2 linked regions of the Homo sapiens genome follow. The protein of the gene in region 1 interacts with the protein of each later gene in a biochemical or structural test. Each region holds a gene or a part of one and is shown on either strand. Other genes may lie near its edges.

Region 1 (7,674 bases):
TGATATTTTATCAACAAACAAAATATTGATAATAAGTCATGAAAATTTCCTTATATCACTAATTTTTTTTTTGTATGTGAGCATGGAGGAAGACATAGGAGTCTAAATTATGTGGTCTTCCCTTATAGAGTATTGAATCATTTTTCTGGAAGTGAATTAAATCACTGTTGTATCCTCTTGATTTTTTTTCTGATCAGCTTGATCCTTTAAGGCTGGTATATCTCAGAATTGTCTTAGTATGAGGACAAGACCTTTCTTAGTAGTAGGACAAGACATAGTGTTTATACCAGAAACACGAACTTTCTTTGGTATCTCTTCTACGGCTGAGCCAGAAATCCAAAGTCATCCAAACCTATCAAAACTCTCCTATCTCCATTAACCTCAGTCCCATAGCATCTGTCTTCTTCTAGACTTCACAAAATTTGCCCTGCTCATGTGCAGCTTAGCCCTCAGTCAAGGCTCTGCAGGAAAACTGCATGGAGGCTTCTGGGTCCCCTTATAAAGCAGATTCACTCTGCACTGGTTACCAATTAAGCCCCCTATGTCTTGGGCTACAATTTTGATTACTTGCACAAATCCACTATGATAGAACACTGATACAACTAGTTAAGCAAAGCAACTTTAGTACTTGCAAATAGGCACCAAGGGATAATAGAAGCCTAGTATTCATAATGAGCTTCCCCCTCAACACTCAGGAAAGCTGCTAAGAGTGAATTAAATTTTGTCTATGATGTTCCAATTGCATGGCAGCCGAGGGATCCCAGAAAGCAGCCTGTCCTGGTTTTTATGTCCGAGGGAATACAGGTATCCCTGGGCTAAAGTGTCAAAGAAGATCCTATTTTGGGGTGGCAAAGGAACACAGCAAGGTTATTCTGGTCAATTTCTCTTATCTCAGGATGTTGCATTGTCAGCACATTGTACATTTATTTTTGAGAAACACAAGTGACAAAAAAGAGAGAACAAGTTAGTACAAGGTCACTCAAACTGTCCCACACCCTTCTGCATGTTTCCTTTTTTCAGTAGCCTGACCCACAAATTCCAAATACATCATAATGCCCAAACTCTTATCTCTGCCTCCTCAATTCAGCAAGACTTCTTACTATGGTTAGCCTCCATCTTCATGCGTACCAGTCTTAAAAATGCCCCCAGGTAGAAAGCCAGAGCAAACCTAGCACTCACTTCATGTGTTTTTCTTCTCATCTGTTGCCAGTTGTATTCTGCTTGGAAACTACTGCCTCAATATTTTTTCTAGTTTTATAGTTATTTGTGGTAGGAGGACAAGCCTGGTTCCCATTACTTTGTAATGACCCTCCTCTTCTTAATAGTTTAGTAGTAATATGTTCTTTTATTTAAGGTAGTGCTCTATAGATTAAATATCAAATCAAGGGCTTTGTCCACTTCTAAAATTGCTGGTCTCTGGTACCTAGACCAGTGTCTGGAACACAGCATGTGATCAATATTGTTTCAATGAATTAATGAGTTATTCAGTGGGGAGTTCAGGATGCAAACAAAAGTATTTAATAAAATAGTTGAACAAAGTAAGGAATACATTATATGTTTCAATAACTCATAGTGATATCCAACAGAGAGCAGTGTACCTCCAGAAATGTTTGTGAGCTTGTCCAAAGTCATATAGACTGGCATTTACCACAAACTCTAGCTTCACACGTTCTCAAAATTGATGCTGTCATCTTGTTAGCATGCCAGGAAGGACCCAACTCTCAGTAGAAGGCTCACATTGGCAAAACTCATGGGGTTAAATACCAAACTAATAATACAGATTCAGAAATAAAACTGTCACTGATAGCCATTTCTCTACCTTTTCATATGACCAAAGAAGCATCCAAAATGTATTAAAAATTTTGCTTGCCAAGCATGAAACTAGAATATTAATTAAATGTTTAATGTCATCAAGCTAAGAATTAACTTTTTAAATAAATTAGTATATTTTTAACTACATATTTTTGTCCATATTCACAATAGGACACAATTTTGTGGATTTTTTTTTTGCTTTTTTATGTTACCAGCTCTGATTGTCCATATCTCTTGTAAATATGATAGGTCTGATATTTCATTTAGTACACAAAATATTTCCTAGAAGTGTTTCATGTTTTTTTAATATAATTCTGTATTTTTATAATTAATTCAATTATTTGTTGATAATTTATTTTAGTATTATTAAATAATTATTGAGTTATTTCTCATGTTGGGTACTGGAAATTTGGTGACAAGTTAGACAAGGGTCTTCGTCTTATATATGTTACAGTGTAGCCTGGAAAACAAAAGTTAGCAGGCAACTGCAGTACAATATTTTAAGTTTACCCGGCACAGTAGAAGGCCATATATGAAGGACACCCAACTCGTTCTTTAGAGATTGGTGAAGTCTTTCCGGACAAGATGAAGTGTAATTTCAACCTCAATGAATATAGGCTGTATGGGTTAGATTAATAAAATTGCTTTATGGATTTAGAATAGGAAGGGAAAAGTATTCTCAACAGGAGCTAAAACTAAGAGATTCAGGAACATGGCACACGAATGGAACTATACGTGTTTCTCTGTGAGTGGAGCTTAAATCAGTGTAAAAACATAGTAGGAAGAGATGAACGCTATTGGGAAATTTTAAACGGTGAAGAATCATAATAAAATTTGTACTGCAGCAAGATATTACTGATGAGAATGTGGATAATAGTCTTGGAGGATGGAGAAAGAGACAAGGAAAACCTAAATTCAGGGTCACCAGTTAGGAGGTTTTTATAATAATTTGTGTGAGAGATAGTTCCGGTCTAAATAAAAGTAATTACAGATGGCACAAAAATAAAAAGACAGATGTAGGATATATGAAAGGGGAATTTTTTTTTAAGATTTGATTATCAGCTATGTGTGAGATAAGAGGAAAATCAAATATCCCTGAGAATAAATGCCAGGTTTCCCGTTTATATCCCTGAGTGGATAGCGTCATTAAATGGGAAATGTATGCAGGGAAGGTTTTGGGTAAAGATGATAAATGTACCATTCATATGACTAATTCAGTGGTCAATTCAATGATGTTTTTCACATGTTGGTTGGTATGAACTTGGAGCTCAGGAAAAAGGCTTGAGATAAGTTCTAAGAATCATCTGCATATTGATCGTATTTGGGTGTTGAAGTAATTTTTCAGGAAATGAGTTTAAGGGAAAGATGAAGAAGGATAAACTGAGAAGGATTTGGGGATGCAATAGTCAGAGGTGTAATAGGAAACTCTGGAGTTTAGCTGCCATTGAGGAGAATTACAGGCAATTCTCTACCGTGCCTGCTGTTGTGGAGAGATGAAATAACATATGGATGGAAAAAAAATGTTCACTAACTATAACATTAAGTCAATTTGGCAAAAATAATTTAAGTAAAGTGTTGAATGGAAACCACATTTTTGTGTGTTGGAAAGTAAATGAGATAGAGGGGATTAAGAGACTAAGTGTAGAAAACTTAATCAAAGATTTTATATCTGTAAGGAGAAAAGATATGTCAGTAGCTACAGGAATATTTGAAGTTATGATTTTAAAAATAATTTCTTGTAAGAAGATTAAAATATTTTAATGATATCAACATGTAAAGAAACTTTGTTTTTCAGAATTGTTTCTAATGCCTCATTTTGTCTACAGGTATTAACAATATGCATAAAGTACAGTTGAAGTTCAGAAAAAAGGAGTTCAGGAAAAATGTCAAGAGAGAAGATGGGCAAATAGGGAAGATAAAGGAAAGAAGAAGGAAAAGGAGAAAGCAAAGGACAGAATTTTAGCAAATAGCACATTTAATGGGGAAGAGAGGGAGTTAAACCTAAACAGACAACACACAAACAAACAATCACACAGTATGAACTAGGAGATATGCCATCCTACAATCCTATGTGGAAGAGTATTTGAAAAAGGAGGGGGTCAGTATTATCAGATGCTGCCAAGTGGGAAGTCCAGATGGGACTCATGATATTTCCTTATGCAATAACTTACATAAGGAGAGCAGAAAGAGAAATGGGCTATAACTAGAGAGTGAGAGTGAATCTAAAGAAAGATTGCTAAAACTCATTTAAATCCAACTCAAATGTGATTTATTCTGAGAAAGTTTATCTGAAAAATCCATTAGGAACATATTTCCCTTCCCTCAACATTTCTATAGTGCAACTACCATACACCCAAGCAATTTCACTCCTTGGAATTTATTCCAGATAAATAAAGACTTGTGAACATTTTATAAAACTATACACAAATGTTTATAGCAGATTTATTTGTAATAACTGAAAAAAAAAGAAATAACCCATGTTTCCTTCAATGGCAGAATGGTTAAACAAATGATAGTATATTCATATCATGGAATATAATACAGCAACAAAGAGAAACAAACCATTGATACATTCATCAACCTGAATAAATCTCCAGAGAATCAGGCTGTGTGGAAAATAGAAACATCTAAAACAACATATACTACATGATTTAATTTATATAACATTCTTGAATTGACAAAATTATAGCAATGGAGACCAGATTAGTGGTTCCCTGGAGTTAAAAAAAATTACATGTGGGGAGATGTAAATGTGGCTGTAAAAGGGCAACATGTGTTACACTTGTAACTTTCTGTATCTTGATTATATTAATTAATGTCACTATCCTAGCTGTGATATTTCACTGTAGTTTTCCAAGTTGTTACACTGGCGAAAACTGGATAAAGAGTACACGGGGTCTCTCCTAGGAACTTCCTACGAGTTCATGTAAATCTATAATTTTCTCAAAATAAAAAAGTTTAACTTTTACAAGGCTTAAAAATAAGTAGAGTTAAAAAAGATAGTTGAAAGAGCGTTTTTGAAGTCACATTGTCTAGTTTTGAAGTCACATTGTCTTAAGGTTGAATCCAAAGTCTGCCACTTTTTTAGTTATGTAAATGTCATCTTAGTGAGCCTTAAATAAAAATTATCAAGATCACCATCATCATCACAACCACCATTACTAAAACCCTTATGGAGTTTTTAATATGTCCCAGTTACTGTTCCAAACACTTGGTGTATTTTAACACATTTAATTCTCTCAACAGCCCTACCAGGTAGGGATCATTATTATCTTAATTTTAAATATTGAAAAACTAAGACACAGAAAGAAAAGGTAATATGCTCAGGGCCACATAGTAACTAAATGAACACTAATTTGAGCCCAGACAGTCTTCCACAAGACTTAATACCTGCCCCTAACATTTATGGGGCAAGACAAAAAGTGAAAAAGAGGTCCCATGCTGTATGTCTAAATGCTTAGGAGCTATAGAAACTAATAACTTTAAAATATATATGCTAGCCTTCTGCTTTGACAAATATACTTTGTAAGCCACTTGGAAGATTATGTTTGAATTTAAAATTTTCAGACACTTAACGTTTCCACTCTATAAACATGACCTACCACCTTTTTCTCTTCCCCCATGGTTTGGTTTCACACTGTGAGCAGCTCTTTGCACATTTGAGTACACACTCCAGCCTGCAAATTGAAGCCTTGTTCATACTCGGGCCTATGGGTATAAATACCAGTGAGTCAGTGTGTTTTTGGTAGATGGACTTGGAGAAAAGGCTGTGTAAATGCTGGAAGCATAGAGCTTTTAGTAAGGGAACCTCAAGATCCTGAATACCAAAGGCATGGTGTAGAAGTAGGATCCGTTCCAACTGTAATGGCTTCTTGACTCTGTGGAATCACCCCTCACACTCTGCGAGGGGAACGGATAAAAGAGACATAAAGTGAGGTCCACCGTAGGGGGTCCCTCTTACTCTTAGGCCTAAAGTCAAACTTAAGCCTGAGTGAGATACTGGCCTTATTTCAGTGGGAATAATACTTTCCTTTTATAGTTGTGAAAACGACATGAGGGTCTCTCAGGTATATTGTGCAAGATGTGTGCTGCGGTGCTGCATTAGAGGGAAGATGTAGGTTTTCTGTTAATATTTGCAATTATGTTTTATTATCAATCAGTAAATGTTTCCAACATTAATACCATTTTATAGTTATATTATTTATTTTCTTGATAGATGGACTAGAGGCTTTTACCAGATTTCTTAAAACTGAATTCAGTGAAGAAAATATTGAATTTTGGATAGCCTGTGAAGATTTCAAGAAAAGCAAGGGACCTCAACAAATTCACCTTAAAGCAAAAGCAATATATGAGAAATTTATACAGACTGATGCCCCAAAAGAGGTACAGTAAAGATAACTGTAAAAATGCATAATTGCTTTCAAAATTTTTTAATAATTTTATTTTTAAATTGTGAATTATATTTTTCCAACTTATTTTTATTAATTTCATTTATAATTGACATGTAATAATTACACATGTTAATGACATACAGTGTGATGTTTTAATATATGTATGCATTGTATAATGATAAAATCAGAGTTAGCATATTCATCAAATTAAACATTTATCATTTCTTTGTGGTGATAATATTCAATATGTTCTTTTCTAGCAATCTTGAAATATACCATGTATTATTATTCACTATAATCACCTATTAGGTAATATAACACCAGAACTTATTCTTCCTATCTATCTCTGTACCTGTTGATCCATCCTTTCTCCATCCTCCCATCCTTCCTACCTTACCTAGCCCTTGGTAACCACTATTCTGCTCTCTACTTCTATGTGAGCAACTTTATTAGATTCCACATACAAGTCAGATCATGTAGTATTTATTTTTGTGTGCCTGGCTTATTTCACTTAACATAATGTCCTCCAGGTTCATTCACATTGCCACAGATGACTGAGTTTCTTTGTTTTTTAATAACTCAATAGTGTTCCATATGTACCACATTTTCTTTATACATTCATCCTTTGATGGACATTTAGGATGAGTCCATCTCTTGGATACTGTGAATAATGCTGCAATAAACATGGGAGTGTAGATATCTCTTTAACATGCTGATTTCAATTCCTTTAGATATATACCTAGACGTAGAATGGCTGGATCGTATGATAGTTTTATTTTTAATTTTTGAGGAACCCTTATACTATTTTCTATAATGGCTGCACTACCTTACATGCCCACCAACAATGCATGAGTTTCCCTTTCTCCACATCCTCACCAACATTTGTTATTTTTTGTCTTTTTCATTAAAAGCCATTCTAACCGAAGTGAGTTGGTATCTCATTATGGTTTCTACGTGCATATCCCTGATGGGTAATGATGTTGAACATTTTGTCCAAAATGGCACTTTATGTCTTTTTTTGAGAAATGTCTATTCAGAGCTAAATTTTTTAGATAATCTGTCTTTATCAAATTTGTACCCTCATACATTCTACCAGAATGTTCATGATGTTGCTGGAGGGAAGATAATTATTTATGAATATTTATCCATACAAATGGAAGACATTGTAAGATACTATCACAGAAGGAAAAGTACAATTAGAGTCACTTTTCAGAGCTATTTTCATTCTAGACTAAGAGTGAATATGATAAATTGCAACATTTAGATTCATTCACTTATTCATATTAATCACTTTCGCACAAGCAACCTCTCATAGAAACTAAAGATTTTTATAAGTGATGAAGTCAAGGGACATCAAGAAGTTTGCATCATATACCAATTTAATTTTGGCTCATCTATTTATACGGAGTTTTGTTTGCTTTAGGGATACTTTAAAGACAGGTTAAAAGAAAAATCTTACAATAGAGAGATG
Region 2 (7,674 bases), on another chromosome or scaffold:
ATCAGAAAAAGGAACAATCCAGTAGTTTTGACCAATTGTGTATTAACTCTTATAGTCCCCTCTGTGTCTCCCTTTCATTTGGTTACCGTCCACCTCTGCCTCTCCTCTCTCTGGGGAGGAACACAATTTTGAAGTTAAGAGCCCACCACTGAAATCAGTCTATCAAGGTTGAGATCCCAGTTCTGACACTTCCTATTTGTAGAACTACCATCAAGTCACTTGATTTTTCTGGGCCTTACGACCAAACTCATAGGATTGTTTTGTGCACTGTAGTATATAACATATGTGTACGTTTAGCATGATGCCTGACACGTAGGACACTTATGAATACTCAGGAAATACTTCCTTTTTTGAAACTTCATAGCCCAATGAAGTCCCACCACCATTACTAATAGTAACCCAGTGTTAAGCTCTTTGTGCAGCACTTAGAATCTATAGCATCCACTTCACTACTCCTATGGCTCTGCATTATTTGCTTTGTTCTTAGAAAAGGATCTTACCCTCCCCAACTAGACTGTGAAATCCTGGACAACTAGACACCCAACCCATTCTGAGAAACACTTGAACACTTGGTGATTGGTAACAAAATGCATCCACATGTAGCCACTATGTAAAACAAGTGAGAGTCACGACTGCTGCCCTATAAGAGTCTATGTGGCCAGGTGTGGTGATTCACACCTGTAATCCCAGCACTTTGGGAGACTGAGGTGAGAGGATCACTTGAGCACAGGAGTTCAAGCCCAGCCTGGGCAATGTAACGAGACCTCTATCTATAAAAAATGAGGCAGGAGTTGGCAAGAGGTCAAGACTGCAATGAGCCATGATCCTGCCACTATACTCCTGCCTGGGTGATGGGAGACCCTGTCTCAAAAAAAAAAAAAAAAAAGTTTATTTATTTGGCAAGATAATCACATCTCTCCCTTATGGCCCACCACCTGGTTTTATGAATAAAGTTTTATTGAGACATAGCCACACCCATTCATTATACACTGTCTATGGCTGCTTTCACACCATAACAGCAGAATTGGATAATTGTGACAGAGATAGAATTGTTTGCAAAGCCTCAATTACTCTGTGGCCCTTTACAGAGAAAGTTTGCCAAGCCGTGGTCTAGATAGTTAAGAGCACAAGCTCTGAAAAGTTCCACTTTGCCACTCACTGTCTGTGTTGCCTCAGACAAATTTATTTAGCTACTCAGTTTATCCCTGGGCAAGAAAGAATTGAATGGAATCATACATATATCACATAGCAGAAACCCAAAAGTATCTACCATAGAGGTGATATAACAACAAGAGAAGAGACTATTTTTAAAATTACATTGTCAACATATGATATCCAGGATGGATATCATTCCACAGTGTTTTTGTACTTACTAAAAGCTTCCTCAGAAAAGTAATTACTTTAAAAACCAAGATTAAATTTAGCTTCATAGCTTTCTATGATGATACAAACACATCAGGGATGGAGGTTTAGTCATCTTTTCATCCCACATGGAATGTGGTACAGTCCTGGCTCATGAAAGGGAAATGTTACATGTTAAATGAATTGAAGTTCCCTTCTCAAATACATGTAAGATCCTGAAGGTTGGTGAATTGAAAATATAAACATTTGTGGATGTCACCAGATGTTAGAAATGGTACCTTTTGTTAGCATTGTGTTCATATCCTCTCTTCAAGTACATTTTCCTTTGTGCTTTGCTGTTCTTTGAAAAACACTTTCTCAGTCTAAACAGTGTTTTCTCTTTCACTCCTTTTAATTTGCACTAGCCCGGAAACAAATCATCAATGCCTGAGACTGCACTTCTCAGTGTTGCTCAGAAAACTATGGAAGGAAGTGACTGTGTGGGTAGTTAACTTGCTTTCCCACCTCAAGCTTCAAACACATCTACCTGAATACAGTAGGCATGAAACATCTGGCTTAGATCTAAACACGCTTGCCTGCCACACACACACACACACTCGAGGTTCTTCTTAATTTTTCTTGGAACTTGGTAAGAATCAGCGTGTGAGAAATTGCCACACCATACACAACACCCCATCTTGTGGGCTGGCACGTTTTCATGATGTGCTTGCATAAGGGAGGATGCAGAACAGATAGAGCATGGTGCCCACGGAGGTGAACCCTTCTGAGGGGTTCATTCAAACTTCTCAGATGCAGCATACCTAGCCACACTTCACAGTTGCTGATTTTTCCGCAATAAAAGACTTAGTTTGTGATCAGTGCTTGCAGTGCTGTTTTTTGATCTCTGCACCATCTTCCTAATCTCTTCACGTACCTCCTTTCTCCAATAATTTCCCCAGATTCCCCACCACTACAAGCATTTTCCTTCCAGCATGTGCCCATTGTGAATATTCTGAAATCTGAAGACTTTTTTTTTTTTTTTTTTTTTTTTTTACTGTTACCTTACCCCAGTATACATATAATGCACAGAGGAAACTTGGCCACAGAAAAAGAAAAAAGACATTGATTTTGTTATTACAAAGCCAGCGCAGCAGTCATTACGTGAAACTCCAAGCCCTTGTAAGATGAGCAAACACTGAAAAAATTGAGGCCCACTCTGCAGTGATGTTTTTGTAATAAGCATGTTTATAGTATTATAAATTTCACACTTCCACATTTCTATACTTACAAGGTCTTAATCATAATGAATGCCATTTCTGTATTTCTCTTCAAGAAAGGAAATTACCCTTTCCACATGGACTTGAATTGCAAGATTGTTCATAGAGACTGTGGAATTCTGCTCCTGCTGTGATGGCTGTAATGAGTTCTTTGTAGTGTATGTTTATTCAGATAACAATTTATGCTTAAAAACATAACACTTTTCAAGTACACTTCAGTGAACTTGGATCTAGTTCTTATATTCTGTAGGGTAAATAAAAAAGAAAAAAAAAAGGTATAGTCCCTTCCTTCCCAAATAGAGTAAGTACAAAATCATACAGAAGTTCATTCAGAAGCCAGAAATATAATGTTCTTTTTATGAAATGAGAGACTTCTCCAGCTCTGGTAATCTGTTACTTTCTGGTTTTGAATAGTTTTTATTACTTCTCTGGAGTTAATAGTACATTGAAAAAGATGGAACATTAATTATATATATATTTGCTTGTATATATACTTTACATATTGTTTTTAATTGTACTTTTTATCTATTAAATATGATGCCAGCCCTCTTAGTCATTAAAAAAATTGAATTCTGGGCACCTACATCAAAAATTCAACATTACTTTTTTAAATTGTACAAATGAGGATAGTCTATTTGTTTTTATAATTCTTTCCTCCCATCTTCTGGCATTATCAGATATAAGTTTATTGGAGTAATCTCCAATTTATAAAAAGGTTGGTTTGAGAATAATTCAAGTCAGCTGTCTGAAGCTCAGGGTGCATTTTGTTAGAAATGGTGGTCAAGCCCTCAATAGAGTTCTGCAAGATCTCTTTATCCCTACTAGTAGGTAACAAGAATATTGATGATAGAAAAAAACCTGCTGGGTGTGGTGGCTCACGCCTGTAATCTCAGCACTTTGGGAGGCCAAGGTGGGCGGATCCCTTGAGGCCAGGAGTTGAAGACCAGCCTGGTCAACATGGCAAAACCCTGTCTCTTCTCTTCTAAAAATACAAAAATTAGCTGGGCATGGTGGTGCACGCCTGTAGTCCCAGCTACCCACGAGGCTGAGGCAGGAGATTTCGCTTGAACCCAGGAGGTGGAGGTTGCAGTGAGCCAAGATCATGGCACTGCACTCCAGCCTGGGCAACACAGTGAAACTCTGTCTCAAGGAAAAAAAAAAGTTTCTTATTGCTTGGTATAGAACTAACTTGAAAAAATAGGAGGAAATGCATATATAAAGCAACACAAAGACAGATATATGATACGTATCCAATACTTGAAAGGTGATGGTGTTTTGATGTTATTTACAGTAAGTTTTAAGTTAATATATCTATCGGTACCTATTAAATACACTTTTAAAACAGCTTTATTGAGATTATTTATATACCATGTAATTCACTTATTTAAAGTGTACAATTCAGTGGGTTTTGATATAGTACTTTTTTTAATTATAAAATTTGCCATTTTAACATTTTTAAGTGCACAATTCATAAAAGGCATTAATTACACTCACAATACTGTGCAGCCATCACCAGTATTTTCAAAATATTTTCACCACCCCAATTAAGCAGCAACACCCCATTTCCTTCCTCCCCCTAACCCTTGGAAACCTCTAATCTACTTTCTGTCTTTATGAGTTTACCAATTCTAAGTACGTCATATGTGTGCAAGCATACAATATTTGTTATTTTATGTTGGGTTTATTTATTATAATGTTCTCACAGTTCATGCATATTACAGCATCTGTCAGAGCTTTACTCTTTTTTATGGCTGAATAATATTCTTTTTGTTTCTGATATTCTGATATTCTGTTTGGTTTGGTTTTGTTTCTCCATGTATCTGTTGATGGACACTTGGATTGTTTTCGCCTTTTAGCTGTTGTTAACAATGCTGCTATTAAAATTGATGTACATTGCTTCTTGCCCTTTTGACTAAGATCAAGTGTCTATCAGAGCCCCTGCTCTCAATTCCTTTAGATATATACATTGGAGTAGACTAGCAGGGTCGGTCATATGGTTATTCTATGTTTAGCTTTTTGAGGAACCACCAAACTGTTTTCACAGCAGCTGCACCTTTGTACATTCCCAACAGTGCACAAGAGTACAAATCTCTCCATATTTTCCCAAACCCTTGTTAATTTTATAGCCATGCTAGTAGATGTGGAGAGGTCTGTCACTGTGGTTTTGATATGCATTTTTCTAAATGATTACCATTATTGAGCATCTTTTCCTGTGCTTATTGACCATTTGTATATCTTCTTTAGAAAAATGTCTGTTCAAGTCTTTTGCCTATTTTTTAATTGGGTTTTTTGTTATTGAATTGTAGGAGCTCTTTATATATTCTGGACACTAAACGCCTATCAGATGACATGATTTGTAAATATTTTCTCCCATTCTATAGATTGGCTTTTCACTTTCTTAATAATGGCCTTGGCCAGGTGTGGTAGCTCATGCTTATAATCCCAGCACTTTGGGAGGCTGAAGTGGGAGGACTGCTTGAGGCCAGAAGTTCAAGACAACATAGTGATACCCCCATCTTTACAAAAAGTTTAAAAATTAGCCAGGCTTGGTGGCACCTATAGTTTCAGCTATTCAGGAGGCTGAGGCAAGAGGATCACTTGAACCCAGAAGGTTGAGGCTGCAGTGAGCCATGATCATTCCACTACACTGTAGCCTGGGTAGCAGAGCAAGACCCTGTCTCAAAAAAAAAAAAAAAAAAAAAGTCCTTAGATACATAAAGTTTTTAATTTTGATGAAGTCCAATTTATTTTTTCTTTTGTGAAAAATATGACCTGTGCTGTGGTGTCATATCTAAGAATCCATTGCAAAATTACATTTTTAGTTTATCTTGCTAGATATGTCACAATCCTTTTTCAAAGCATCTAGGAGAATTCTTGGTACATAAGAGACTCCTTCTTAAATCAATGTAAGAAAATATAGGTTGGGCACAGTGGCTCACACCTGTAATCCCAGCACTTTGGGAGGCCAAGGCGGGTGGATCACCTGAGATTAGGAGTTTGAGAACAGCCTGGCCAACATGGCAAAACCTTGTCTCTACTAAAAATATAAAAATTAGCCAAGCATGATGGCAGGCACCAGTAATCCCAGCTGCTCAGGAGGCTGAGGCAAGAGAATCGCTTGAACCTGGGAGGCAGAGGTTGCAGTGAGCTGAGATCTTATCACTGCACTCTTACCTGGGCAACAGAATGAGACTCCATCTCAAAAAAAAAAAAAGAAAAGAAAATATAAACCAATTGTTTTATCATCACACATGAACTGAATGCTACACAAATGTAGTGTGCTCAGAAATACCAGAAATCTATGGAAGTGAGACTGTTACAGAGGCCCATTGTAGATAGACCTGACCTTACAAACAGGTGTTCTAAGAGAGATGTCAGTCTGGAAGATGTAAAATGATCCATAATATTGGGTCGTTTGGAGGACAGATTGACAGGAGAGCCCGAGGCAGCTGTATCTTTGTGCACACTTATTATATAGCTGAAACAAGCATACTTAACTCAGTTGAACAGAAGTAAGCTATCACTCCCCTGATGAAGAGCCTACAGTGGCTCCCAATCACTCAGGGAATCAGAGTGAAGGCCAAGCTAAGAAATAAACTTAGCCTTGGCTTTCAAGTCATCTGTCTGCTTTCACCTATCCACATTTTGTGAATGGGTGGGTGCCTGGGTGGGTGGATGGATGGTCAGACATAGCAGTGTTAGGGAAAATGATTATAACAGATCAAATCTGCAGTGCAGATGTAGGCTTCATGAGCAATGACACAGTATTTATTGAACCAATGATGATTGAATACATTAGCAGATTAGGTAACAAAGTGTCCCTCTTGTCTCTTGGCCGAAAGGACCCCAGAGAGATGCCCAGGCAGCCCGAGAATTCATTCTGAAGATGTTCGTGGACCTGAACCCAGACAGTGACAAAATTATCTACTCCCACTTCACGTGCGCCACAGACACCGAGAATATCCGCTTTGTCTTTGCTGCCGTCAAGGACACCATCCTCCAGTTGAACCTGAAGGAGTACAATCTGGTCTAATTGTGCCTCCTAGACACCCGCCCTGCCCTTCCCTGGTGGGCTATTGAAGATACACAAGAGGGACTGTATTTCTGTGGAAAACAATTTGCATAATACTAATTTATTGCCGTCCTGGACTCTGTGTGAGCGTGTCCACAGAGTTTGTAGTAAATATTATGATTTTATTTAAACTATTCAGAGGAAAAACAGAGGATGCTGAAGTACAGTCCCAGCACATTTCCTCTCTATCTTTTTTTTAGGCAAAACCTTGTGACTCAGTGTATTTTAAATTCTCAGTCATGCACTCACAAAGATAAGACTTGTTTCTTTCTGTCTCTCTCTCTTTTTCTTTTCTATGGAGCAAAACAAAGCTGATTTCCCTTTTTTCTTCCCCCGCTAATTCATACCTCCCTCCTGATGTTTTTCCCAGGTTACAATGGCCTTTATCCTAGTTCCATTCTTGGTCAAGTTTTTCTCTCAAATGATACAGTCAGGACACATCGTTCGATTTAAGCCATCATCAGCTTAATTTAAGTTTGTAGTTTTTGCTGAAGGATTATATGTATTAATACTTACGGTTTTAAATGTGTTGCTTTGGATACACACATAGTTTCTTTTTTAATAGAATATACTGTCTTGTCTCACTTTGGACTGGGACAGTGGATGCCCATCTAAAAGTTAAGTGTCATTTCTTTTAGATGTTTACCTTCAGCCATAGCTTGATTGCTCAGAGAAATATGCAGAAGGCAGGATCAAAGACACACAGGAGTCCTTTCTTTTGAAATGCCACGTGCCATTGTCTTTCCTCCCTTCTTTGCTTCTTTTTCTTACCCTCTCTTTCAATTGCAGATGCCAAAAAAGATGCCAACAGACACTACATTACCCTAATGGCTGCTACCCAGAACCTTTTTATAGGTTGTTCTTAATTTTTTTGTTGTTGTTGTTCAAGCTTTTCCTTTCTTTTTTTTCTTGGTGTTTGGGCCACGATTTTAAAATGACTTTTATTATGGGTATGTGTTGCCAAAGCTGGCTTTTTGTCAAATA

The links.
Region 2: the proteins of RGS18 (region 1) and GNAQ form a complex in vitro, tested with the Homo sapiens proteins (one study listed by BioGRID).

The regions. Positions count from the first base shown.
Region 1 is NC_000001.11:192,175,264-192,182,937, forward strand, and holds part of RGS18 (regulator of G-protein signaling 18), read left to right. Parts: intron 1-6,028; coding exon 6,029-6,195; intron 6,196-7,674. UniProt on the Homo sapiens protein: Inhibits signal transduction by increasing the GTPase activity of G protein alpha subunits thereby driving them into their inactive GDP-bound form. Binds to G(i) alpha-1, G(i) alpha-2, G(i) alpha-3 and G(q) alpha.
Region 2 is NC_000009.12:77,720,300-77,727,973, reverse strand, and holds part of GNAQ (guanine nucleotide-binding protein G(q) subunit alpha), read left to right. Parts: intron 1-6,460; coding exon 6,461-6,651; 3' UTR 6,652-7,674.